Regions from separate parts of the Homo sapiens genome. Here regions 2 and 3 are each linked to region 1. The links come from fine-mapping of genetic effects on gene expression. A gene starts in region 1. Each other region holds a variant in brackets. All regions are shown on one strand. Distances are from middle to middle. Region 1 holds the start of FXN (frataxin). Region 2 holds the start of PRKACG (protein kinase cAMP-activated catalytic subunit gamma). Region 3 overlaps FXN (frataxin).

Evidence for each region.
Region 2: its variant is fine-mapped to the expression of FXN in nucleus accumbens (GTEx, PIP 0.93).
Region 3: its variant is fine-mapped to the expression of FXN in whole blood (TOPMed, PIP 0.96).

What each region holds. Positions count from the first base shown.
Region 1 is chr9:69,030,815-69,038,993 of GRCh38, reverse strand. It overlaps FXN (frataxin), which reads right to left and starts at 3,242. Exons shown (of 5, transcript NM_000144.5): 1 at 3,047-3,242. The coding sequence starts at 3,211. RefSeq lists silencers at 2,007-2,301, 2,884-3,353 and an enhancer at 2,674-2,723.
Region 2 is chr9:69,010,357-69,018,535 of GRCh38, reverse strand. It overlaps PRKACG (protein kinase cAMP-activated catalytic subunit gamma), which reads left to right and starts at 4,423. Exons shown (of 1, transcript NM_002732.4): 1 at 4,423-6,032. The coding sequence starts at 4,444. The coding sequence ends at 5,499. The variant G/A (reference allele first, on the strand shown) is at 3,538.
Region 3 is chr9:69,063,343-69,071,521 of GRCh38, reverse strand. FXN (frataxin) reads right to left here. Exons shown (of 5, transcript NM_000144.5): 4 at 6,487-6,584. Among named protein-coding and RNA genes, the nearest start is that of FXN, 32 kb to the right of the region's middle. RefSeq lists enhancers at 2,568-3,067, 4,318-4,917. The variant T/GTTT (reference allele first, on the strand shown) is at 3,911.

The sequences.
Region 1 (8,179 bases):
GGTGTGAGCAACCACACCCAGCCTAGGAGACATTTAAGTGTGTTTGGAACAACTTGACTATGTGAACCTTCATTTTTAATTGTGAATTTTATAAAAGTAAATACAGATAGAGCATTTACTTAGAAATTGTGAATTGAGATATGCTGGAAGTATATGAGTACGAAAAGAGTATGCAAGATATCTTATTACTGATTTTTTTTGTATGTCACAGAATCCCCCAAAATCTTGGCTCACTGCAACCTCTGCCTCCTGGGCTCAAGTGATTCTCATGCCTCAGCCTCCCGAGTAGCTGGGACTACAGGCACCCACCACCATGCTGAGCTAGTTTTTAGTAGAGATGGGGTTTCACCATGTTGGCCAGGCTGGTCTTGAACTCCTGATCTCAGATGATCCACTCGCCTCGGCCTCCCAAAGTCCTGGGATTACAGTCGTGAGCCACCGTGCCTGGTCTCATTACTGATTTTTAAAATACTGATTACATGTTGGAATGATAATATTTTGTATGTACTAGGTTGAATAAATATATTGTTGAAAATGATTTTTTTTTCTTTTTAACTAGAAAATGTAGAATTATGTGTGTGGCTCCCATTCTGTTTCTGTTGAACAGCTGCTTTAGAAGTAGATGCAAGGGGTGGAGAAAAGGGTGGGGAAGAGGCCTTCAAGTGAACTCAGTTTCTGATGAATTTTGGAGACCAGGGGGAGCTTAGGGTCAATCCAGGACAGTCAGGGCTTTAAAATAATTAAACAGGATGGTGGCCCCAGTTGCCACTGCCACCCACCCAACTCCTCAAATACCCAAGATGTGCAAGGGAACTATGGAACAGACAGGTTAAACAAATGTGATTAATTCAGTATAGAAAAAAAGAGGCCCAGCTGGTGACAGAGGTTGCTAACCATCTATCCAGAAACCCAGTGTCCACCTCCTGGGCGGCAGCGCCAAGTTGGGTGTGTTTGTCAGTCAATAGCCCTTAACAGCCACCAGGTACCATCTAAAAAACTGTACCACCTCTTGTCATTCTCCTAAATTAAAAACTCTGCTGATGGCCAGACGCGGTGGCTCACGCCTGTAATTCCAGCACTTTGGGAGGGCGAGGTGGGCGGATCACCTGAGGTTGGGAGTTCGAGACCAGCCTGACCAACATGGAGAAATCTGTCTCTACTAAAAATACAAAATTAGCCGATAATCCCAGCTACTCGGGAGGCTGAGGCAGGAGAATCACTTGAACCCAGGAGGCAGAGGTTGCAGTGAGCTGAGACTGAGCCACTGCACTCCAGCCTGGGCAACAAGAGGGAAACTCTGTCTCAAAAAAACAAAACAAAACACAACTCTGCTGACAACCCATGCTGTCCACACAGGCAGGGGTGGAAGCCCAATACGTGGCAGCTCAGATAGTGCACAGAAGCCAAGTAATAAATGTCTGCTTTCCTAGAGGAGATCTAAGGACCATCATGGCCACACTTGCCTATTTTTCCAGAGATGCTGGGAAATCCATTTTATTTTTTATTTTTATTTATTATTATTATTTTTTGAGACGGAGTCTTGCTCTGTCGCCCAGGCCGGAGTGCATTGGGCGATCTTGGCTTAATGCAACCTCTGCCTCCCGGGCTCAAGCGATTCTCCTGCCGCAGCCTCTGGAGTAGCTGGGATTACAGGCGCGCGACACCACGCCCGGCTAACTTTTCTTTATTTTCTTCTTCTTCTTCTTCTTTTTTTTTTTTTTTTGTATTTTTTAGTAGATACTGGGTTTCACCATGTTGGCCAGGTTAGTCTTGAACTCCGGACCTCAGGTGATCCACCTTCCTAGGCCTCCCAAAGTGCTGAGATTATGGGCATGAGCCACCGCGTCCTGCCAGGAAATCCATTTTCTAAGTCCTAACTTTTAAGCACTGGCAACCAATCCCAAAGTTTCTTCAAACACAATGTGGGCCAAATAACACGTGTGGGAAGTTCAAGCCTAAAGTACAAACTCCGGAGAGCAACACAAATATGGCTTGGACGTGGCCTGCCTCTTTCATCTCCCCTAATACATGCGGCGTACCAGCCACTCTGAAGGGATCCCCTTCCGCCTTCCTGGCCTTTGCCCAGACGGTTCCCTCCTCGTGAAACACCCTCTACCACTTCCTTGGCATCTTCAAGACCCTCATTAAATACCATGTCCTCCCCTTGAGGAATCTTCCTCATCCCCACAGCCATTCTTTGGGTTTCCTCCTTTCAAGCCGTGGCGTAACTGGGTCAGATATTTCTTTGTACCCCCCAAAGGAAGAAAGGGGAACTAATTTGAAGTTCTGAAGACTTTATCTATGTTATTCCCATTTAATCCTCACACCAGGTCCGCAAAATGGGCGTCACCTTTATCTTCTCCCTACAGAAAACAAAGCCACGTCTCAGAGAGGTTAGGGGAATCCCCCAAGGTCACACAGCTCTGCGGAGTGGGGCAGAATCTGGAATAAAGGTCGGGTCAGTTTCCAAAAGCCAGGGCCCCTGCTGCTCTAGCTATTCTGCAGCTCTGAAAGTTTCACCTCGTTCCAGGAAAGCATTTCGTTCAAAAAAATCCAGCCTTGAAAATATTAGGTGTGCGCGCGCCCGTGCGCGCAAACACACACACACAACACACACGCTATATACAGATACACACAGACACACACATTATGTGTATGTATATACTAGCAGATACCATCTATTAATATTACTGAAACAAGTTATCGCAGAGAAGTGACAAGCATGGAGACAGCCGCACACCCCTCGGAACCGGTCCCCTCCACCAGCCTGCCCTGCCTTCGCCCGTGCCTTGACCCGCAGTCGCACCGCAGGACAAAATGTCCCCTTTTCCTTCGGAAAGCAGAAGCCAGTGTAAATGCAACCGGGAGAACCAGAGAAGGGAGTTGCAAGGCCGCTTCCGCCGGGCCGCCCTGAGAAGGAGCGGGGTGAGCTAGTCCAGCGCGCGTACCCGGAGCGACCCCGGCGTGCGCGGCGCCTCCCTGCGCAGGCGTGCGGCGTGCGGCCCGCGGCGTGCGGCCCGCGGCTGTTCCCGGCGCGGATACTTACTGCGCGGCGGGGCGTGCAGGTCGCATCGATGTCGGTGCGCAGGCCACGGCGGCCGCAGAGTGGGGCCAACTCTGCCGGCCGCGGGACCCGGGTGAGGGTCTGGGCCTGGGCTGGGCTGGGTGACGCCAGGAGGCCGGCTACTGCGCGGCGCCCGAGAGTCCACATGCTGCTCCGGGTCTGCCGCCCGCTCCGCCCTCCAGCGCTGGGTGCTGCGGCGACCCCTGGTGGCCACTGGCCGCAGGCACTCTTCTGTGGGGGAGCAGCTAGAGGTTAGACCTCAGGAAGAACTTCCCAGCTTAGCACTATTCGTGCATTTAACAAAAATGGAGAGCCTGCTTTGTGCAAAGCACGGAGTGCAACCAGGACCCCTGACCCAAGGGAGACTGCAGCCTGGTGGCCCGCCGCTTCTAAAATTCTAAACAGGAGGAACTTGGGAGCTGCTGTCTTGCTGGGAAGTGGGTGCATGCACAAATTGAGGCTGCTTGGCCGCCGGTATGGGTTTACAGCAGTTGGGTATGTGGGGCCAGGAGACGGATGCCTTGTGTAAATCTGTACTCTGCCCACTTCCTAGCTGTGTGACCAGAGGGCAAGTTAATTAACCTCTCTGTGCCTTGTTTATAAAATGCGTTTTATAAAAGTTCCTACTTCATAGGATTGTGGTAAGGATAAAATGAGTTAAGCCCTGTAAAGTTTTTTTTGGACAGGGCATGTTCCTGTTAAGTGCACAATAAATATTGTTAATAGATTTTATTGATTGATTGATTGATTGAGACGGAGTCTCGCTCTGTCGCCCAGGCTGGAGGGCAGTGGTGCGATCTCGGCTCACTGCAAGCTCTGCCTCCCGGTTTCACGCCATTCTCCTGCCTCAGCCTCCCGAGTAACTGGGACTACAGGCGCCCGCCACCATGCCTGGCTAATTTTTTGTATTTTTTTTTTTTTTTAGTAGAGACGGGTTTCACCGTGTTAGCCAGGATGGTCTCGATCTACTGACCTCGTGATCCACCCGCCTCATTTATTTGTTTGTTTGAGACAGAGTCTCACTCTGTTGCCCAGGCTGGAGTGCAGTGGTGTGGTCCTGGCTTACTGCAACTTCTCCCTCCCGGGCTCAAGCAGTCTTCCCATTTCAGCCTTCCAAGTAGCTGGGACTACAGGTGTGCACCACCACACCCAGCTAGTTTTTGTATTTTTTGTAGAAAGGGGGTTTCGCTATGTTGCCCAGGGTGGTCTTGAACTTCTAGGCTCAAACGATCTGCCCGCCTGGGCCTCACAAAGTGCTGAGACGACAGGCGTGAGCCACCGTGCCTTGCCTATTGTTGATAGATTTTAAAAGAGAATTTTATTTCTGTTACATATTACAAAGGGATGCAAATTGTGAAAGTTTTCTTCACATTTTATATATGCTTTAGAGGATGTCAAATGTGAGCCGAGTGTGGTAGTGCATGCCTGTGATCTCAGCTACTCAGGAGGCTGAGGCGGGAGGATCACTTGAGCCTGGGAGCTCAAGGCTGCAGTGAGCTATGATTGTGCCTGTGAATAGCCACAGCATTCCAGCCCGGCCATCATAGCAAGATACTGTCTTAAAAAAAAAGAAAATGTCAGTTGTGTACACTTTCCATGGCAGAGAAGATGGGAAGGTACTAAAGTTCTTCCAAAGCCACTTTGTGAATCGTGAAGAGAGACATGTTTACATACTTAGGATGCTAAATGACAAGTGTCAAGAGGAATGTAAACTAACAGGTGTGAGTGTTGAGTGGGAGATTTATATAGAGCTAGGGATGGGGGAATCAAGGAAGTATTCATGGAAGAAGTGGTGTTGGCACAGGGCCTTCAAAAATAGGGTGGAGGAGGTGGGATCTGATTGCCTATCAAAGAGGTGGTCCAGGGCATTCTGGATGAGAGACATCCTTCTGTGTTTAATTAATTCTAGGCAGCTGCTTAAATACTGTTATGTATATGCCAGGCCTGGAGAAATCATTTTCCCCCTGCAAAGTATCTGGAGATGCTTTTGATTGTCACAACAGGCAGCTGTGGGGTGGGTATGTTCTACTGGCATCTAGTAGGTAGAGGCCAGGGATGAAACATCCTGTGATGTGCAGGACAGCCCCCCACCTGTGCAACAAAGAACTATCCAGTCCAAAATTCTGCCAAGATTGAGAAGCCCTCCTTGAAACCATAAAGGGAGAGCCCATAGGCATCAAAGGGTAGTGTTTTCATTGCCAGCCATGGTCTCAGACTCTGCCACACCAACAGTGAGGCCCTTCCTCACATCATCAGAACTGCATTATATACTCAGAGAGAGAAAGCTGCATCATTAGTTATTATTATTATTATTATTTGAGACAGAGTCTTGCTTTGTTGCCCAGGCTGGAATGCAGTGGTGCCATCTCTGCTCACTGCAATCTCCACCTCCTGGGTTCAAGAGATTCTGTCTCAGCCTCCAGAGTAGCTGGGATTGCAGGTGCCCACCACCACGCCTGGCTAATTTTTGTATTTTTAGTAGAGATGGGGTTTCATCATGTTGGCCAGGCTGGTCTCGAACTCCTGACCTCAGGTGATCCGCCCGCCTCGGCCGCCCAAAGTGCTGAGATTACAGGCGTGAGCCACCGCACCCTGTGCTACATCATTATTAGCTAGCATGCTTAGCAAGTTCTGGCATAGAAAGGTCACTAGCAAATGCTCCAGCTCCCTGCAAAGTTGATATCATTGCCCCATCTTTTTGGCCAAAGAAATAGACATAGAATAGCATATCAGAGAAGACGAAGGCTTCGCAAGAACTTGTCTTTCTCCACTTCCTTGGAGGTAGTCAAGAGGAATCAGGCACACTTGGTAAGAAGCTGGGGCACCGTGGCGTGGGCAAAGATGTTGAGGGACTCTGTGGTACACTGTAGCTGTTCCTCTCTTGGTTGCTTTTAGCCTCAAGTAGGCAGATCCTAATAGCTGTCAGGTTATGGGTAGGGGAGGATATCACCAGAATTCCCTTGCTCTGCCATTAGGATATTTTGATAGGATTTATCAGAGGGCTATGATTATCAAATGTGGTCGCTGGGCCAGCAGCCTCAGCATCACCTGGAAACTTGTTAGAAATACAAATTCTCAGGCCCTATTCTCGATCTACTGAATCAGAATCTCTGGGGTTTCAAGGCCCAGCAATCCATGGTTTAACAAGACCTCCAGGTGATTCTAATGTGCTTTAAAGTTTCAGAAGCACTGTGGTAGCATAGGCCTTGGGCAAAATTGTGAGTTAAGCCAGTGTCACCAGGGTGATCATTTTAAATCTAAAAATCTAAATCTCAAATGTGAATCTAACCATAGCCCTCTGCTTTCACCACCATCAAGATAAATTCCAACTTTCTTAGCATGACAGAGGAAGCTCTCTTGCCCACCTTAGCTCTCCCAGCGCCCTTACCACTCTCTTCTGTACACCCCACTCTGCATATTGGGAGGCATCTAGACATCTTTGCTTCTTCAAGCTATTTGTAGTTCCTAGAACAAGTGATGCTTTTTCCCTCTCTGGCTATCCCTCATGTTGTTCCTTAGTCTTCCATCCCTTTGCCTGGTATGGAAGATTGGATCTTCCAAAGAAGGCCACACCAATATTTGTCACATGTCATATGCTGTTTGGGACTTTGACATTCCTGTCACCCAGGGATGTTATCTATTCTCCTCCCTTCGAATTCGGGTTTGGGCTACAACTATTCCAACCAACAGGGTACTGCAGAAGTGCTGCTTGGTGACTTCCAAGTCCAGGTCATAAAAATGATGCATCTTCCTTCTAACTCCCTCTCTCTCTCTTTTTTTTTTTTTTGGGTTTTTGTTTGTTTGAAACAGAGTCTCATTCTGTTACCCAGGCTGAAATGCAGTGGTGTGGTCATAGCTCACAGCAGCCTTGACCTCCTGGAATCAAGTGATCCTCCTGCCTCAGCCTCCTAAGTAACTGGGACTATAGGTGTGCATAACCACACCTGGCTGATTTTTAAAATTTTAAAAATTTTTGGTAGAGACAGAGTCTCACTATGTTGCCCAGGCTGGTCTTGAACTCCTGAACTCAAGCAACCTCCCACCTCAGCCTCCCAAATTGCTGAGGTTACAGGTGTGAGCCACTGTGTCCGGCATTCTCTTTTTGGGATGCTGACACTGAGGACCAGCCATCATGTTTTGAGGAAATCCAAACTAGCCAAAGTAGAGAAACAATGTAGAGAGAGCTGAGGCCCCCTCAGCCAACAGCCAGGGTCAACCAGTAGACATGTAAATGAGTCATTCTTCAGATAAATTCCAGCCCCCAGCCTCCCAGTCTTCCAGCTGAATCCTTAGACATCATGGAGCAGAAACAAGGTATGCCTTATGTGTTCCATGTGAATTTCAGGCCCACAGAATCTCTGGGCAGAAAAGATGTTTTCATAGCTTTAATCCAGTATGTTTTAGGTAATTTATTACACAGCCATAGTAACCGGAACATGGGGCTACTTTCTTCATATCCTGTAGGACTCAACTCAAATGTCAGAGGTGACTTCCTCCAGAATCCTTTTATGAAACCAAACTTTCATATTCCCACAGGTGTGCCTTAGGTACCTCTCTCTGTTTCCACAGCCTGCAATGTAATTGTTAGTTTTCCTGTTTATCTAATATCTCTGACATAGACACTCTACTGGTGAATGAGTGATATTCTTTGTTGGCCTCCTGTTTCTTCAGTAGCAATCACTGTTGCTAAGGGAATGGGGTAACACAATTGGCCAGTTCAGGGACAGGGCATATTACCTGATGAAGGGCAGTGAGAAACCTTGCAGGACACCAAAACAAAAACAAAACAAGACAAAACCCAATCCTCTACAGATGACCAAACCTTAAGTCTCCAAATTCTCACTCATTCTTGCTTAGTCCTGGGCTTCAGCTCAGTGCTATGATTCAGTGCCTAAAGACTTAACTTCCTGTCAGGAGGTGACTTCAACTCTGGGGAAAAGAAATCCCACTGCATTTGCTTGGATTGATTGGTAAGAGAGATTGATAAAAGGATGTTCTTTGACATTTGCCAAGGGCAATTTTTTTCTATAATGAGGGAAGAGAAACAGCTGTTTGTCCCAGGAGACTGATTATGGCACTAGAGTCAAATCCACACTCTGGAATGCAATTTGATAC
Region 2 (8,179 bases), 20 kb after region 1:
AAGGACCTATGAACTCAATGTGTTCAATCCTGAATTCATTATTGTCTTCAATAAATTTGTTTCTTTCTTTCTCTTCCCCACCCCCGCCTTGTCCCATTTGCTTTGCTTAAAAAAAAAGCTTTGCTTCCTTTATGTGGAAAGACACATAAAGGAAGAACTGAAAAACCAGGGCTCAGGACAGAAGGCAAGGAACTTATTGGCCAACAGCTGTAGAAACATGGACAGCCTTCTAAGATGCTGTATTTGGATGGCTCCTTTACAAATGCCTCAAATCCCCCTGTGTCTCTGCTCAAGATTCAATTCCTGAGAGACATAAACTGATCGATCTATCTTGGGTCCTGTGGCCATCCCTGACTTTGACTCAGGTGAGTGGGTTAGATTGGGAACCCAACAGAATCAGATGAAATGAGGTAGAAGTAATCCCTCAAAGATAAAACAGAGTGCTATTGCCAGGAAACGAAGGAGAACTACAAAATATGGGGAAAATAATTTTATAAAAATTGTCTCCCTTTTGTGGATTTAAACAGTATATAAAAGTGACATATAAAATATAAGTAAATGCATTTGTGAGAAACCAATGTTTTACCTCATTTTTATTTTAATAAGTAAAGTAATTCATGCTCAAAATTAATTTTAGCAATTCAGAAGCTTATAAAGTGAGAAGTAAAAATTTTCCTTCCTTTAATTTATGCTTCTCTAAGTTCCTAGTGCTATTCCCTAGGGGTAATCACTTTTGGCAGTTCTTATATGTCAGAAGATATATTTTTAGGTAAGCAAGTTGGGCCTATTTCTAGGACTACTTTCTTTTCAGGTCCCAAAAACATTACAATGCTCATTATCATGTGTGTCAAGCCACTTCTATAAATATTATGGTGGCCGGGCACGGTGGCTCACGCCTGTAATCCTAGCACTTTGGGAGGCCGAGGCAGGCAGATCACCTGAGGCCGCGAGTTCGAGACCAGCCTGGCCAACATGGAGAAACCCCGTCTCTACTAAAAATACAAAATTAGCTGGGCATGGTGGCACATGCCTGTAATCCCAGCTACTCGGGAGGCTGAGGCAGGAGAATTGCTTGAACCCGGGAGGTGGAGGTTGCGGTGAGCCGAGATCGTGCCATTGCATTCTAGCCCGGGCAACAAGAGCAAAACTCGGTCTCAAAAAAAAAGAAAAAAAAAATTGTGGCAAAATTAGTGGTACCAAGGGATGAATGATTGCCCAAACTTTAAATAAATGTAGTACTTTATAAATTATTGTCATTAAGTTATTTCTGAACTTCCTGACTCCCATAATTTTTCATCTTTCATATAACAAAGGCCACGCCAATTTTTAAATCAGCATTTTATAGATCATAAATCTGACATAGAAACTTTGTGTTCAAAAATGTTCTTTTACAATATTCTGCTAATAAGGAGAAAACAAACTATTAATAGAAGCTGGCTTGTCAAAATCCAGGTATGATAAGTATTTCTGGACCAGAACATGCAGTGTTATGTAAATAATTCCCTGAGTGATAGAGATTTGTAGTTTATTTCTTATTTGAATCCTGGTGGAGTTTGTTCTTTTCTTTGCTCCCATCAATATTTTGGAGATAGAGAGGAAGTTAGAATTGAATGATCCAAGCCTTATGCAATTAGCCATTTGGAAACTGCTATATAAACAGTAAAGAGGAGAATCAGCTGGCATGACTGCCAGTGAGCAGTTTTTTGGGAGAAGAATGGTCTTGATTGCCTTTCATTGGGCATACAGGAAAGCAGAGTTGGCTTTCACCTCTTCATTTGGCCCCCTAGGCAAGCTCCAAGCAGATCATGCAGAGGTATTGTATCTTGCTACACAAATCTTTTCCTTCTGAAAGGGTTTATCTGAATGCAAAAGGATTCCTGTTTCCTTGGCATGCTAAGGACTCCCTTGCTCCCCAAGGCCATGGAGAAAAGCAGAACGGAAAGTGGAGAGAAATAACAAATGTAATTATTCTGCAGCTTGTTCTGGGATAAATACTTGATGTTCTGACCTGTAAACGAAGCATGGGGACATTTCTAGTGTGCAGCATATGTTCCCTCTAGACCCCTGTGTCTTCCTAATTGAACTTCAGAGATTAATGCCACAAGAATTTGTCATGGAATGGCACAGCCTGCTTCTAAACAAACTGTCCCACTTCCAAGGCGTCGGTCCAAGAGAATGGCTTCCCACTAATTGCTCTTTGTGTATAAATTTCTACTGAATAATCTGGAGGTAAGTCAGAAATGGGCAGAATTTTAGCAGATCTACTGTGATGAAAATGAAGAGGAAATCACTGAGATTATGGGGGAGACGTGGAATTTCCATCTGCCAGGGATTTGCCTTGACCCAAAGCACAAGGGGCAATTGACCCCCCTGCTATGTTCTTGAGGGAATGTGGGTTTCCCTTTTGTGGAAGTTCAGATGATCAACAGTAGATTTTTCTCCTTTCCTCTTCTTCCTCTCTAACCTGACCGTCTCTGAATATACAGTCAGTACCCAAGTACTGGCCCCAGATTAAACCGTAAACTCGGAACCAGGCCTTGCACACAATAGACACCTGCTTGACCAACATCTGCTGAACTGAGCGGCAAGAATTCACAGTCACAATAGAAACCTTCTACTTGGAGTCAAGTAATCAGGGATTCCTCTCCAATTTGCTTGGTTTCAGCCTGCAGGGCTAGGTGAAAGTGTGTTGTTTACTTGCACTAGCTACAGGCGGTGTAGCCAGGGTGGGTAGGCAGAATTAGCTGTCAAACTTAAAGGGCAAGATGGAGAGAAAATAGGAGGATAAATGGGTATTCCTGTAGCTCAGTGTTTATGATGTAGGACAGAATCTTTGTACAGAATTGACTGGGGAGAGCAGCTCAGAACCCACCCTGTGATGGCTGAGTGCTGGCAGTCTTCTGGAGGGTGTGTGGGGCGGCTGACATGGTGGCCTGGGGGAGTGATGGAAGGCCCATCATCTATGTACTTTGACTTCTCATAAACTCCTGTGGCATGTTTTTAATAATTGATAGAATAAGTAAACAGAAAGTCAATAAGAATATAGAAGACCTGAACACTACTACTAGCCAACTTGACCTAAGTGACATTTGTAGAACACTGTATCCTCAAACAGCAGAATACACCAGAATATACATTCTTCTCAAGTGCATATGGGCCATCTACCAAGATAGATCATATTCTGGGCCATAAAATGAGCCCCAAGAAGTGTAAAACATTTTAGGTCACACAGAGTATGTTTTCTAACAATGGAATTAAATCAGAAATCAATAGGAAAATTCTTGAAAAATCCCCAAGTATTTGGAAACGAAATAATATACTTTTAAATAGCTTATCTGTCAAAGAAGATGAAAAGGGAGCTTAGAAAATATTTTGAGCTGGATGAAAAGGAAAATACAACATACCAAAATTTGTGGGATGCTGCAAAAAATAATACTTAGGAGGAAATTTATAGCACTAAGTGATTGTAATAGAAGAAAGATTTCAAATCAGTGACCTTAGTTCCCACCTTAGGAAATAAGAGCAATTAAACCCAAA[G/A]CAAACAGAAGAAAGGAAATCATATGTATGTGTTAAAATAAAACATTACATGCAGTAAAACTGAATTTTGGGGGGAAGTATACAGTTCTTTGAGGTGTTTGTTTGTTTGTTTGTTTGTTTTTGAGATGGAGTTTCACTCTTATTGCCCAGGCTGGTGTGCAGTGGCACGATCTCTGCTCACTGCAACCTCTGCCTCCCAGGTTCAAGCAATTCTCCTGCCTCAGCCTCCCGAGTAGCTGGGATTACAGGCATGCGCCACCACGCCTGGCTAATTTTTTTGTATTTTTAGTAGAGACGGGGTTTCACTATGGTGGTCAGGCTGGTTTCGAACTCCTGACCTTGTGATCCGCCCGCCTCGGCCTCCCAAAGTGTTGGGATTACAGGCTTTAGCCACTGCGCCCGGCCAGTTCTATGAGTTTTAAAACAAATGTAGACCACCACCCAATACATTGTAACCACCAGCACAATCAGGATACAAACATGTCCCACCACTTCCCACATTCCCTCAGGCTGTCCCTTCATAGTCCAACCGTCCCCTAACCCCAAGCCCTGGCAATCACTGATCTGTTCTCTCACACTATAGTTTTGCCTTTTCTGGAATGTCATAGAAATGGATTCATACAGTAAGTCTCCTTTAGAGTTGGCTTCTCTCACTTGCATAATGCCTTTTGGATTTATCCATATTGTTGAGTGCAGCGGCGTGATCTTGGCTCACTGAAGCCTTGACCTCCCAGGCTCAAGAAATCCTCCCATCTCAGCCTCCCATGTAGCTGGGAATATAAGCGGAGGCCGGGCGGGGGTCGCAGCGCCGCAGCCAGCGCAGCCAGCCCCAGGGGGCGCCATCTCCGCCGCTGCCGCCGCCGCCGCCGCCGCCGCGAGACCCCCGCCCCTGCCGCCGCCACCGCCATGGGCAACGCCCCCGCCAAGAAGGACACCGAGCAGGAGGAGAGCGTGAACGAGTTCCTAGCCAAAGCCAGAGGAGATTTCCTCTACAGATGGGGAAACCCCGCTCAAAACACCGCCAGCTCGGATCAGTTCGAACGGCTCAGGACGCTGGGCATGGGCTCCTTCGGGCGGGTGATGCTGGTGAGGCACCAGGAGACCGGCGGCCACTACGCCATGAAGATCCTCAACAAGCAGAAGGTGGTGAAGATGAAGCAGGTCGAGCACATACTGAACGAGAAGCGCATCCTGCAGGCGATCGACTTTCCGTTCCTCGTCAAGCTCCAGTTCTCCTTTAAGGACAACTCCTACCTGTACCTGGTGATGGAGTACGTGCCGGGTGGGGAGATGTTCTCCCGCCTACAGCGCGTCGGAAGGTTTAGCGAGCCCCATGCCTGTTTCTATGCCGCCCAGGTCGTCCTGGCCGTCCAGTACCTACACTCGCTCGACCTCATCCACCGCGACCTGAAGCCCGAGAATCTCCTCATCGACCAGCAGGGCTACCTGCAGGTGACGGACTTCGGTTTCGCCAAGCGCGTGAAGGGCCGCACTTGGACCTTGTGCGGGACCCCAGAGTACCTGGCCCCCGAGATCATCCTGAGCAAAGGCTACAACAAGGCCGTGGACTGGTGGGCCCTAGGGGTGCTCATCTATGAGATGGCCGTGGGCTTCCCACCCTTCTACGCCGACCAGCCCATCCAGATCTACGAGAAGATCGTCTCTGGGAGGGTGCGGTTTCCCTCCAAACTCAGCTCTGACCTCAAGCATCTGCTGCGGAGCCTGCTGCAGGTGGACCTCACCAAGCGCTTCGGAAACCTCAGGAACGGGGTTGGCGACATCAAGAACCACAAGTGGTTCGCCACAACCAGCTGGATCGCCATCTATGAGAAGAAGGTGGAAGCTCCCTTCATCCCGAAGTACACAGGCCCTGGGGATGCCAGTAACTTTGACGACTACGAGGAGGAAGAGCTCCGGATCTCCATCAATGAGAAGTGTGCCAAGGAGTTTTCTGAGTTTTAGGGGTGTGCTTGTGCCCCTGTGGGTTTTCTTTCCTTTTTGTTTTTGGTGGTTTGGGGGATGGGAGGGTTGGATTGAACAGCCAGAGGGCCCCAGAGTTCCTTGTATCTAATTTCATCCTCACCCCACCCTCCAGGGTTGGGGGAGCAGGAAGCCCAGATATTTGGAGGAACAGAAACACCAGCTGCTCCCTCACCCCCCCCCATGCCTTCCTGGTCCCTCTGTGCTTCTCTCTTTCTCCTCCCACAGGGTCCCCCTTGCCCCAGCCCCCTTCTGCCTGTTTTAAACGAGTTTCTCAGCTCTATTCAGGCCAGGTCTTGCTGTTGTATCAAGGGACACGGTGTGGAAAGAGGGGCTCAAACTTAACTCCAGCCCTGAACAGGCACCACTTACTAAGAGAGGATGAATGAAAAGCACACCTACCCTTTGGCGTAATCCTGCCTGGGAAGGAGAGAGGTTTAGTGCCATGTTCAGTGGGCTGTTTGCTAGAATAAAAAATTAAAACAAAAAACAATTAAAATCTTATTTAAGTTCCACCAGTGTCCCCTTTCCTCCTTCCTCTACTTCCACCCCTCCCACCCTTCCCACCTTACCGTGTCTCCCCATTCCATTTTAACAAATCCAGGAAGCCGACTGACTTTGGAAGGAGGCTCTGGGGTTTGAACTTCCCCCATGAACTGCTGATTTCCCCCTCCCCCCTCCCCAGGGGCATCCTCTATCACTCTTGCAAAGGTCTCAGTTCTTTTAGGAAGCTCCACTCTCTTCTTCCCCAGCAGACTTTTCTTCACCCTTGGGCTTTGGGAGCCAGAAAAGCAGCTGCCCTACTCCCTGCCAAAGAGGAGTTGTCCCCCAAAAAGACAGAGTGGGAGTTCCAAGCCCAAGTCTTTCTTCACAGCAGCATTTCCCCGAAACTCCTTAATTTTATTCTCAGCCAGATTGTGATGCCCAGCCTCTCCTTATGGGAAGGCAGTCCTGCAAAAGGACATGGAAGAGGCCCAGCCCCTCCACCCCCACCTCATCGCCCAGGGTTCAAGGCTAGGGTTGCTGGGGAGGGGCTGCCTGTTTTATTCACCCAGCAGCTTCTGCCTTCTCCCATCCTGGGTGCCCCTCTCCAGCTTAGCTGTCAGCCATCCTTCACCTCTTCTCCCCTGCCACCCCGTGCTGTTTTCAATTTTTTTTTTTTTTTGACATGAAGTCTCACTCTGTCACCCAGGCTGGAGTGCAGTGGTACAATCTCAGCTCACTGCAACCTCCGCCTCCCGGGTTCAAGCGACTCTCCTGCCTCAGCCTCCCGAGTAGCTGGGATTACAGGGGCCCACTACCATCCCCGGCTAATTATTGTATTTTTAGTAGAGACGAGGTTTTGCCACATTGGCCAGGCTGGCCTTGAACTCCTGACCTCAGGTGATCCAGCTGCCTTGGCCTCCCAAAGTGCTGGGATTATAGGAGTGAGCCACCGTCCCTGGTCTGTTTTCTTTCTTAATAGAAAAGTGAGGAGCTGCTGGCAAGCCACCTCATTCATCTTCATATTTCCCCCTCTCATCACTTCTCCCCATCCCAGGAGGAGCTCTCAGGCCTGGGGTGGGTCCCCAGGTGGGCTCAGGGTGATTCAACCTGCTTGCTGTGAAAAGATGAGATTTCCTCTTGAACAGTGTGCTGTTGTAAACATATGTCAAAACTATTACCAATAAGGCCGGGTGCTGTAATCCCAGCACTTTGGGAGGCCAAGGCAAGTGGATCACTTGATGTCAGGAGTTTGAGAACAGCCTGGCTAACATTGCAAAACCTCGTCTCTACTAAAAAATACAAAAATAGCTGGGCGTAGTGGCATGCACCTGTAATCCCAGCTACTTGGGAGACTGAGGCAGGAGAATCGCTTGAACCTGGGAGGCAGAGGTTGCAGTGAGCCGAGATCGCATCACTGCACTCCAGCCTGGGTGACAGAGTGAGACTCTGTCTCAATACAACAAAACAAAAAACCAACTATTACCAATAAAGTTTTGTTAAAAAAGAACTGGCAAAACTAATCTATGATGCTGGAAGTCATAATAGTGACCTTTGAGGATGGCATTGGTGGAGAGGGGACATGAAAGAGCCAGCAGGTGGCCAGGCACGGTGGCTCACGCCTGTAATCCCAGCACTTTGGGAGGCCAAGGCGGGCGGATTACGAGGTCAGGAGTTCAAGACCAGCCTGGCCAACATGGTGAAACCCTGTCTCTATTAAAAACACAAAAAATTAGCCAGGCATGGTGGCAGCTGCCTGTAATCCCAGCTACTCGGGAGGCTGAGGCAGGGGAATTGCTTAAACCCGGGATGCAGAGGTTGCAGTGAGCTGAGACTGCACCACCGCACTCCAGCCTGGGCGACAGAGCGAGACTCTGTCTCAAAAAAAAAAAAAAAAAAAAAGCCAGTAGGTTAGCTGCAAATGTTTTCTATGCGCTTTAGGTGCTGGGCACATGGGTCTACACATATGTAAAAATTCACTGGACTATACAATTCATAGCTGTGCACTCTAGCATATGTAAGTTATACCTCAGTCATTAAAAAACGGTTGAAAATGTTGAGGTTTTTTGAGACAGGTGAGACAACACAGGCAGGCCACGGGTGATTCAAGTGGGGATAGAGTTTTGAGGATCACAGCCTCATGGTATTGAAACGGCTTTTGAGTTAGGTCTTAAAATAA
Region 3 (8,179 bases), 33 kb before region 1:
GGATGATTGGCCACGGCAGCAGATAACACTAGTGCATGTGGCACCCTGATGGAGGTAAGAACAGAGTGCATGGGAGCCCAGAAGAAAGGGCACCTGAGTCTGCCTGAGCACTCAAGGAGGGCTTTTCCAAAGACTGAGGCTAGGATGAGGTCACCAGGAAGGGAAGCTTGGGCAATAAAAGTATCAAGGATTCCTGCATTATCAACCAAATGCTGGGGCTTGAACCTGTTCCCAGTATGGAGATAAAAATGAGTGAACCAAACCATCAGGGTCACAGGAAAAGGACTAATAAACCACACCAAGCCCAAGGACCGTCCCCTTGGCCCTATACTCTGATACTGCTATCGGGTTGCCAGGCAGAGCCTGAGTAACCTCTAGACCCCTCCACACTGCCTGAGGTGCTCTGAGCACAGGCACTGATGCCCACGTGTCCCTAGAATTCTCCTTTATTCTGCAACCTCCTCAGGGTGCGCAAGGTGGGAGGTAAGACTGCTGATTTCACAGGACCTGAAAACTTGTCAAATTAAAAAAAACAAACAAACAAAAAAAACAGGCTGCTGCAGTGGCTCACACCCATAACCCCAGCACTTTGGGAGGCTGATGTGGGAGGATTGCTTGAAGCCACGAGTTTCAGACCAACCTAGGCAACAAAGTGAGACCCCATGTTGACAAAAAAAATTATTTTTAATTAAAAATAAATAAAATTAAGAAAAAAAAAACAAAACAAAAATCAGAAATGCAGCCAGATGAAAGATATTTTGAACCAATGTGAAAGGCTGAGAGAAAAAAAAACAAAATTTTTTTTATATTAAACAACCTTTATTTGAAAAATAGTGCCTTACCATCCTAATGCTATCAATCAAACTTCAATAAGAGCAACTGCAGCATCAACCAATAACAGTTGCTAAATTAACAAGAGATCAGTCAAAAGTGCTTTAAAGGCAGCAGCACTGGCTGGTGTTTCCCTGAGCCTCTGGGCATTCAGGACCCAGGTACAGGGAAAACAGAATCAAACCAGCTGGTGTTCTGCATCCAAGCCCTCGCATCGTTACCTGCCTCCCTCCTGGTGGCCCTGGTGGCCCATGGTCCCCCTAGCACTTCTGAGCCCCTGTCAGCTGTGGGCGGGGCGCCAGGAGCCACAGGCCACTTGTAAAAGGTTGGAACTTGGTCTCATGGTCAGCTGGTTTCTTCCCATTGTGGTCATTTTCTTTTTGGAGTGCCTGGAGCACTCTCTCAATGGACACGGCGGCCCTCCAGCCTTCCTGGGCCGTTTTCTTTCTTTTTTTTTTTTTTGAGATGGGGTCTCACTGTGTCACCCAGGCTGGAGTGCAGTGGTGTGATCTCAGCTCACTGCAACCTCTGCCCCACAGACTCAGGCAATCCTTCCACCTCAGCCTCCTGAGTAGCTGGGACCACAGGCATGCATCACCACACCCGGCTAATTTTTGTATTTTTGGTAGAGACGGGGTTTCACCATGTTGCCCAGGCTGGTCTGGAACTCCTGAGCTCAAGCCATCTGCCTGCGTCAGCTTCCCAAAGTGCTAGGATTACAGGTGTGAGCTACCGTGCTTGCCCCCTGGGCCATTTTCTTACAGCAAATTGGAAGAGTCTTTCTTCAATTCCTGGGCCAGGTTTTGGGCCATCTTCATGTAGTGGTCATGGGTGTGACACATGTGGTTCAAGTTTTCATGCACCTTGCTTAGTCTCTGCTAGAGGTCGGGCAGTAGGCATCCTCCTCCGTGGACTCCCGCTATGGCCTCATCACGTTTTTGGTGCAGTTCAGGCAGAGCGGGCAGCATCAGCTGCAGCCTCAGGAGCTCCGTCTCCAGCTGTGCCCTTGCACCCTACAGAGGCCTACTCTCCAAGCTCTTTACTCCTTTGGATTTCTTCAGAGGGACTTGTAGCCAGGAAGCGGGGAGACCACCATGTCTGGTTTCCCTGTTCCCCTCCACTGCCAAGTCCCCATCATACCACCCTTGAGCAGAGGCAGGACATTCAGCGGGGTGAGTGTCAGAAAGTGACATTATTTATGCAATGTCTTGGGGGAGTGGAAAGAACTCACAGTAGCCGCTTAGCACGAGGAGGCCAGTTGCTTCACTCCAACATTCATGGCCTGTTTCATTCCTGCCTTGGCCTTTCCTTCTTCTCCTCCTTTTTTTGAGACAGTCTCACTCTGTCGCCCAGGATGGAGTGCTGTGGCACGATTTCAGTTCGTTACAACCTTCGCCTCCTGGGTTCAAGCAATTCTCCTGTCTCAGTCTCCCAAGCAGCTGGGATTACAGGTGCCTGCCACCATGCCTGGCGAATTTTTTGTATTTTTAGTAGAGACAGGGTTTCACTATGTTGCCCAGGCTGGTCTCAAACTCCTGACCTCAAGTGATCCGCCTGCCTTGGCCTCCCAAAGTGCTGGGATTACAGGCGTGAGCCACTGTGTCTGGCCCCTTCTTCTTCGCCTGCAAGCATTGCTTCTGTCTCGCAATTTCTTGGTCAGGCAGCTCTGCGGTTTGCTGATGGTCAGTGCCGTCATTCAGATAGTCTGCAGTTTGCCCCTGAAGATCCTCTCCATGGTGCTGTGAAGCATGCAGGACGCACTTTGCATCAGTCACTCGGGGAAGTTCAGGAGGCCTGCTTTTCATGCTTTTTCAGAAACTAACCTAGGTCCTGACACGAGGACCTGCTCATTTCATTTGGAACCCTCGAACAGAGGGTTTGGAGCAATCAAGGACTGGCCTCTGGCATGGTCAACGTAAGACCACCACCAGCCTGAGGTGCTGGCCGCATCTTGGCCCTGGCCTTTCTGTGGATCTCACCTTGGGCCGATTCTCCCCTTCTCAGCTTGTCATCTTCTGACTGTGAAGGCCACCACAGCAGTGCACGCCTGGGTCACCCAGGGTATTTATAGGTTCCTTGGCACTAGTCCTAAGATTCTGCACATCACTAGCACTGCCGCCCACAGGAGGGCCAGCAGCAGCTGAGTTGGCATGTCGTGGCGGCCAGCAGGCCCTCTGTGGCTCCCGAGGGCTCTGCAGCTCTGCCTCCACTTGCCAGTGGCCTGTGGGCCACAAATCACCACTCGGAACCCTGTGGGGTGTTCCGTCTCAAACAAAAACAAGGGCCCATCAGTCATTGTAGAACTTCTGTTGGGCTGGGGGGAGGGGAGGCACCCCATGTTCTAGAAAATTGTGTCCCTGATTTTGCTGTGCAAACAGAAAGTGACATTATTTATGCAATGCCTTGGGGGAGTGGAAAGAGCTCATAGTAGCCCCTTAGCACAGGCCACTCCAGGCTCCACCTGGCCCTACAGCACAGCTAGTGGGTCAAAGCAGGGCCAGGTCATAGCCCCGTGTCCACATGCGATCCTCTCAGGGTAGCATGGTGGCCTGCCTCTGTCCCTTCTGAGGCTCGTTACCAATTTCAAGCTTCCTTCTGCTGCAGGGAAGCCCGGTCCCACCTACAAAGAGTCTGTCTCCCTTGCTAGATTGAGCTCCTTGAAGATGGGACTGTGTTTTCTTCATCTCTGTATTTCCAGTAGCTCATCAATGCCCATTATACACTAGAGGCTAAGTCATTTTGGGCCCTGTTTTCTTGTTGACTCTATTCTGACTTAGGACATGTCACTTTCCCCACTGGACCTGCATATTCACATCTGTGAATAAGAGTAAGTGGGTAAAGACCCTTCTTGCTTTAAAGCCCCTCCAATACAGAGACCTCTGAAACCAGAAGCAGAAGCTGAGGAGTGGTGAATGGAGCATTTTCCCTGGCATGATGGCTGAGACCTGCAGATCTGGCTATGAGGGTGGTATCTTGCCAGTTGAATGCCTCTGCAGAATTTCACCCTACTTTTCAAAGCAGACTCAAGGATGATCTTTATTGTTGATAATTTCATGTTTTTGTTGTTGTTGTTGTTGTT[T/GTTT]TGAGGCTTTGATATTGACACAACAGCTTCTGGAAATCTTTTCCACAGAGAGTATGGGGACTTCTTTAGCCAAGTTGGGCGGGTGCAGGCTCCAACTGCTCGGCAGCCACTGTCCGGGCCACAGCATGTCCACAACCTCCTGCTCCTCTACAGGGGTTTCTCCAGACATAACCGTGTGTCTGGTCATGCCATTTGCCACAGGTATAAAAACAATGACGACGGCCCGAAACTGCGGGATCTTCCCGCGGAATCCTGTGCCTTCGCAGGTACAGCTACACGGCGCTCCCGCGCTCCGGCCTGCTCCTTCCAAGAAGACAGGCGCAGAACGGCCTGGGTCCTGCTCCCCCGGAACCCCGCAGTCTGTGTGGGCAGCAGGCCGGGAGTGGGGAGAGCCGCCCTGGTGGTGAGGCCCGGAGCGGGACGGCTGTGTTAGGCAGCATCCTGGCCTCCAGTGACCAGCAGACTGACTCGGCCTCCATCCCCCGCTGGGAGCTGCCGTCTTGCCGCCACTTCCCACAGAAGCACTGAGAGCTTGTCCTCAGGGCCCGCTTCTCTGCCTCCCTTCCCCCGACTCCCATCCGGCGGTGGCCACTCTGGATCTGCCGGAAACGGCGCAGGAAGGGGAGGGGCCTGAGGTGGACCGGGGAGCCTGTGGTCTCTGGGTGTGGCCTGCTCTGGCCAAGGCACCTCTTCAGTCTCACCCAGTCTCAACCTGCCCCGTCCCCCATATATATATATATATTTTTTTTTTTTGAGGAAGATAGTATCTGTGACAGTAAACGGCATGCTCAGCAGATCTTTCCAAATTCCCATGCTTCTGAACACAGCTAGAGCGTATTGCTGGGCAGTGTGTCCAAATACGATATGGACGTTTTCAGTCTTCAGATATGGGGAAAGTTCTTTTGGGGTAAGTGCCTGCCCGATATCTACAAAGCCACTGATCCCCAAAAGTGATCGCTGGACCGAGCTGATCCACTTCGTTCCCCCGGAGATGAAGGATAAGAACACACAGGCTCAAGCACAGCCAGGGTCAGGAAGAATGACTGAGGCCACAGAGGCTAGTTGGCCCACAGAGGTTAAAATCCTCCAACCTCCAGCACACTAACTGGGTCTAAAAACCAATACAATCTGTGAATTAGGGCCTTCCTAGAATGACAGTGATTTCTAGTGCTGTTTTTGTTGAACTCTAGCACACTTCTTGGATGAAAGTGTGGGGAAAGGAAACACACTATTTATTCTGAACAAAGCATTAGAGATCACAGAATAATAAATGGGAAAATATTAATTACCTAAAAATGATGTCAATGTTAGGGGGTAGAGTAAGGTTATAATTTTTAAAAAATGCAAATACCGTTAGTCTTTCAAAGAATTCTATGCTAGTTTTATCTGGCCCTTTCCCAATTCACAGTCAACATGCTCTCTTTGGAAGTGCTAATGAATGACTGGATCTGAGAACGTTTTGTGGGCATTTCTCTTTTACTTTCTTACAACCACTTCAACAGCAGCCAGGCTGCTGAGGGATGAGGGATGTCTCTCCCTGCATGTTCTCAGGCTTTCAGATGCTATGCAGGCCACATTGTGTCTCCAACACAATCTTTTATTCCTCTAGATTGAAAGCACATCAATGGAAAAGGCAGGAGGGATTAAATGCCCTGGAGCAGCAATATATAACACTCTACCACCTCCACAGGGTACACAACCCCAACCTGCAAAGGGAATTCAAATAACCCTTTACCTGAGAGGCTCAAAACAAGTAGAGGTCAAACTTTAACTTGCTTTGAAGACAAAGTGCAACTTGTTCAAACGCTACAAGGTCAAAAGTAGCTTCTTTTAAAGTCAGGGCAATAATTTAATAGAGGAAAACTGTCTAGGCTGGATTTGGAAAAGTTATAAGCTACTCACTTCAGATCTTAATATCCTGATGCCTGCTTACAGTATCCAAATTGTCAGCAGGGAGAAGTTATGTAACTAGAGTAAACTTTTCTACTGAGAATGAGACAGGCTGCAAAATATCAGGAAAGGCTCACTTACAAGGATGCTAACATAAGACGATGACTTTTTTTTTTTTTTTGGGACAGGGTCTGGCCCTGTTGCCCAGGCTGGAGTGCAGTGGCGCGATCTTGGCTCACTGCAACCTCCACCTCCTGGGCTCAGGCTGAGGCTCAACCTCAGCCTTCCAAGTAGTTGGGACTATAGGCGTGTGCCACCACACCTGGCTAATTTTTATATTTTTAGTAGAGGTGGGGCTTTGTGACATTGCCCAGGCTGGTCTCAAACTCCTGAGCTCAAGTGATCCACAGGCCTTGGCCTCCCAAAGTGCTGGGATTACAGGTGTAAGCCTGCACCCAGCTGTGACTTTATTTTTATTTTCTTTACAGAGACAGGGACTCACTATGTTGCCCAGGATGGTTCTGAACTCCTGTCCTCAAGTGATCCTCCTACCTCAGCCTCTCAAAGTGTTGGGATTACAGGTGTCAGCCACTGTGCTCAGCCGACATTTCTTAAATGGTCCACAATGTCACATTTCGGAAGTCTTTAAGAATTACATATGTTGACTTCTGAACATACCTACATACCTGGATGGAGAAGATAGCCAGATTTGCTTGTTTGGCGTCTGCTTGTTGATCACATAGGTTCCTAGATCTCCACCCAGTTTGACAGTTAAGACACCACTCTAGGGGATTAGGTGGAAAAAAAGCATAAAGAAATTAAAACAAGAAAAAGTTAGCACTTTGTCATCATTGCTTCATGTTTTATCTCAACACTTTCCATTTCTACAAGTACACAAAATACACCATAAAGAAATGTCTTTTAGTATTTAGAAATAGGAGTTTGTGTAGGAAGAGCTTTGCTTTCAGAATCAGAATAGGATTAATCATAATGATGTTGTATCTCATAGAGCTTTCCCTGTTCCCTGTGAGGTCTGCAAGGTGAGAATGGTGGTGAAGCTCGGAGAGTTAAGTGACCTGTCTCAGGTCTTGGTGCTGGCATCTGGGACTGCTGGTTTGTTGCCCTCAACCATCAACCAGAACATACTAGAGGACATAAAAAAAATGCAGACTCTAACTCTATTAGAGTACCACGTCAACTCAAACATCAGACATGACAAGTCTATTACAGAGGAAGTAAAAGGAAGGTAAGGAAGTATGCAAACCATCTGCTTTGCTTGTCTTAGGAGAGCATTAGCTTCAGCTCTGTTGGTAGAAGGCAGAAACTCCAGATGAAGTTTTTTATTTCCAGACTCTTCCCACGCATCTAACAAGCTTCTCAGATACTCCTCCAAGGCTTTATTTTTCTCTAAAGAGCCTTGAATTCTTCAAAAGACTAGTTGGTGCATCTTTGACCAATAAATGCTCATTTAAATTTGAAAACACTCTTTCAACAAAAGAGTCCTTTACTTCTAAGGCCTGTGGTCTCTTTAGAATGGGTGAGATATGAAAGAAACAGCTACAGGGCTAGTTCTCTGTATTTGAACTGGTAAGCAGGGGGAAGCCTGCTGTTCCCCATCTTGTGCATGACTTGCAGAGATACACGGTGGCAGCCTTTTTCTGTGCATTCTAGAGCCTCCATCCAATCGAGAGGCTCTGAATGATTCTTATAACACACTTTTGCAAACACAGAGAGCTATTTAGGCCAGGCATGGCTCATGCCTGAAATTCCAGCACTTTGGGAGGCCGAGGCAGGCAGATGGCTTGAGCCCAGAAGTTCCAGACCGGCCTAGGCAATATGGCAAAACCCTGTCTCTACTAAAAATGCAAAAATTAGCCAAGTGTGGTGGCATGCGCCTGTGGTCCCAGCTACTTGGGAGGCTGAAGTGGGAGGATCACCTGAGCCCAGGAGGTTGAGGCTGCAGTGAGCTGAGATCACACCACTACACACCAGACTGGGCGACAGAGATCCTGTCTCAAAAGCAAAGCAAAACAAAACAAAAAACCCAAAAAACAAAGAGTTATTGAAATTCCAGAGGGTAGTAACAATAATAATATAACTGATAGGAATGGGACAAGGGGCACTACTGGGTTATTTTTTTAAAATAACATCTTTTTCTGATTCAAAAACAAATGTATAGAAATGATGGAGACGTCAGCAATGCAGACACTGATAAAAATATTAACCACTATTTACTCGGTTCCTACTGTGCCAGGCTTGGTGTTTGGCACTTTGTGTAAATTGTTTCCAACTTGACTACAATTGTTGGCGGTAGGATTCATTATTCCAGTTTCACAGATGAGGAAAACAGAGGTTCATAGTAAAGAGTACTCAGTAATT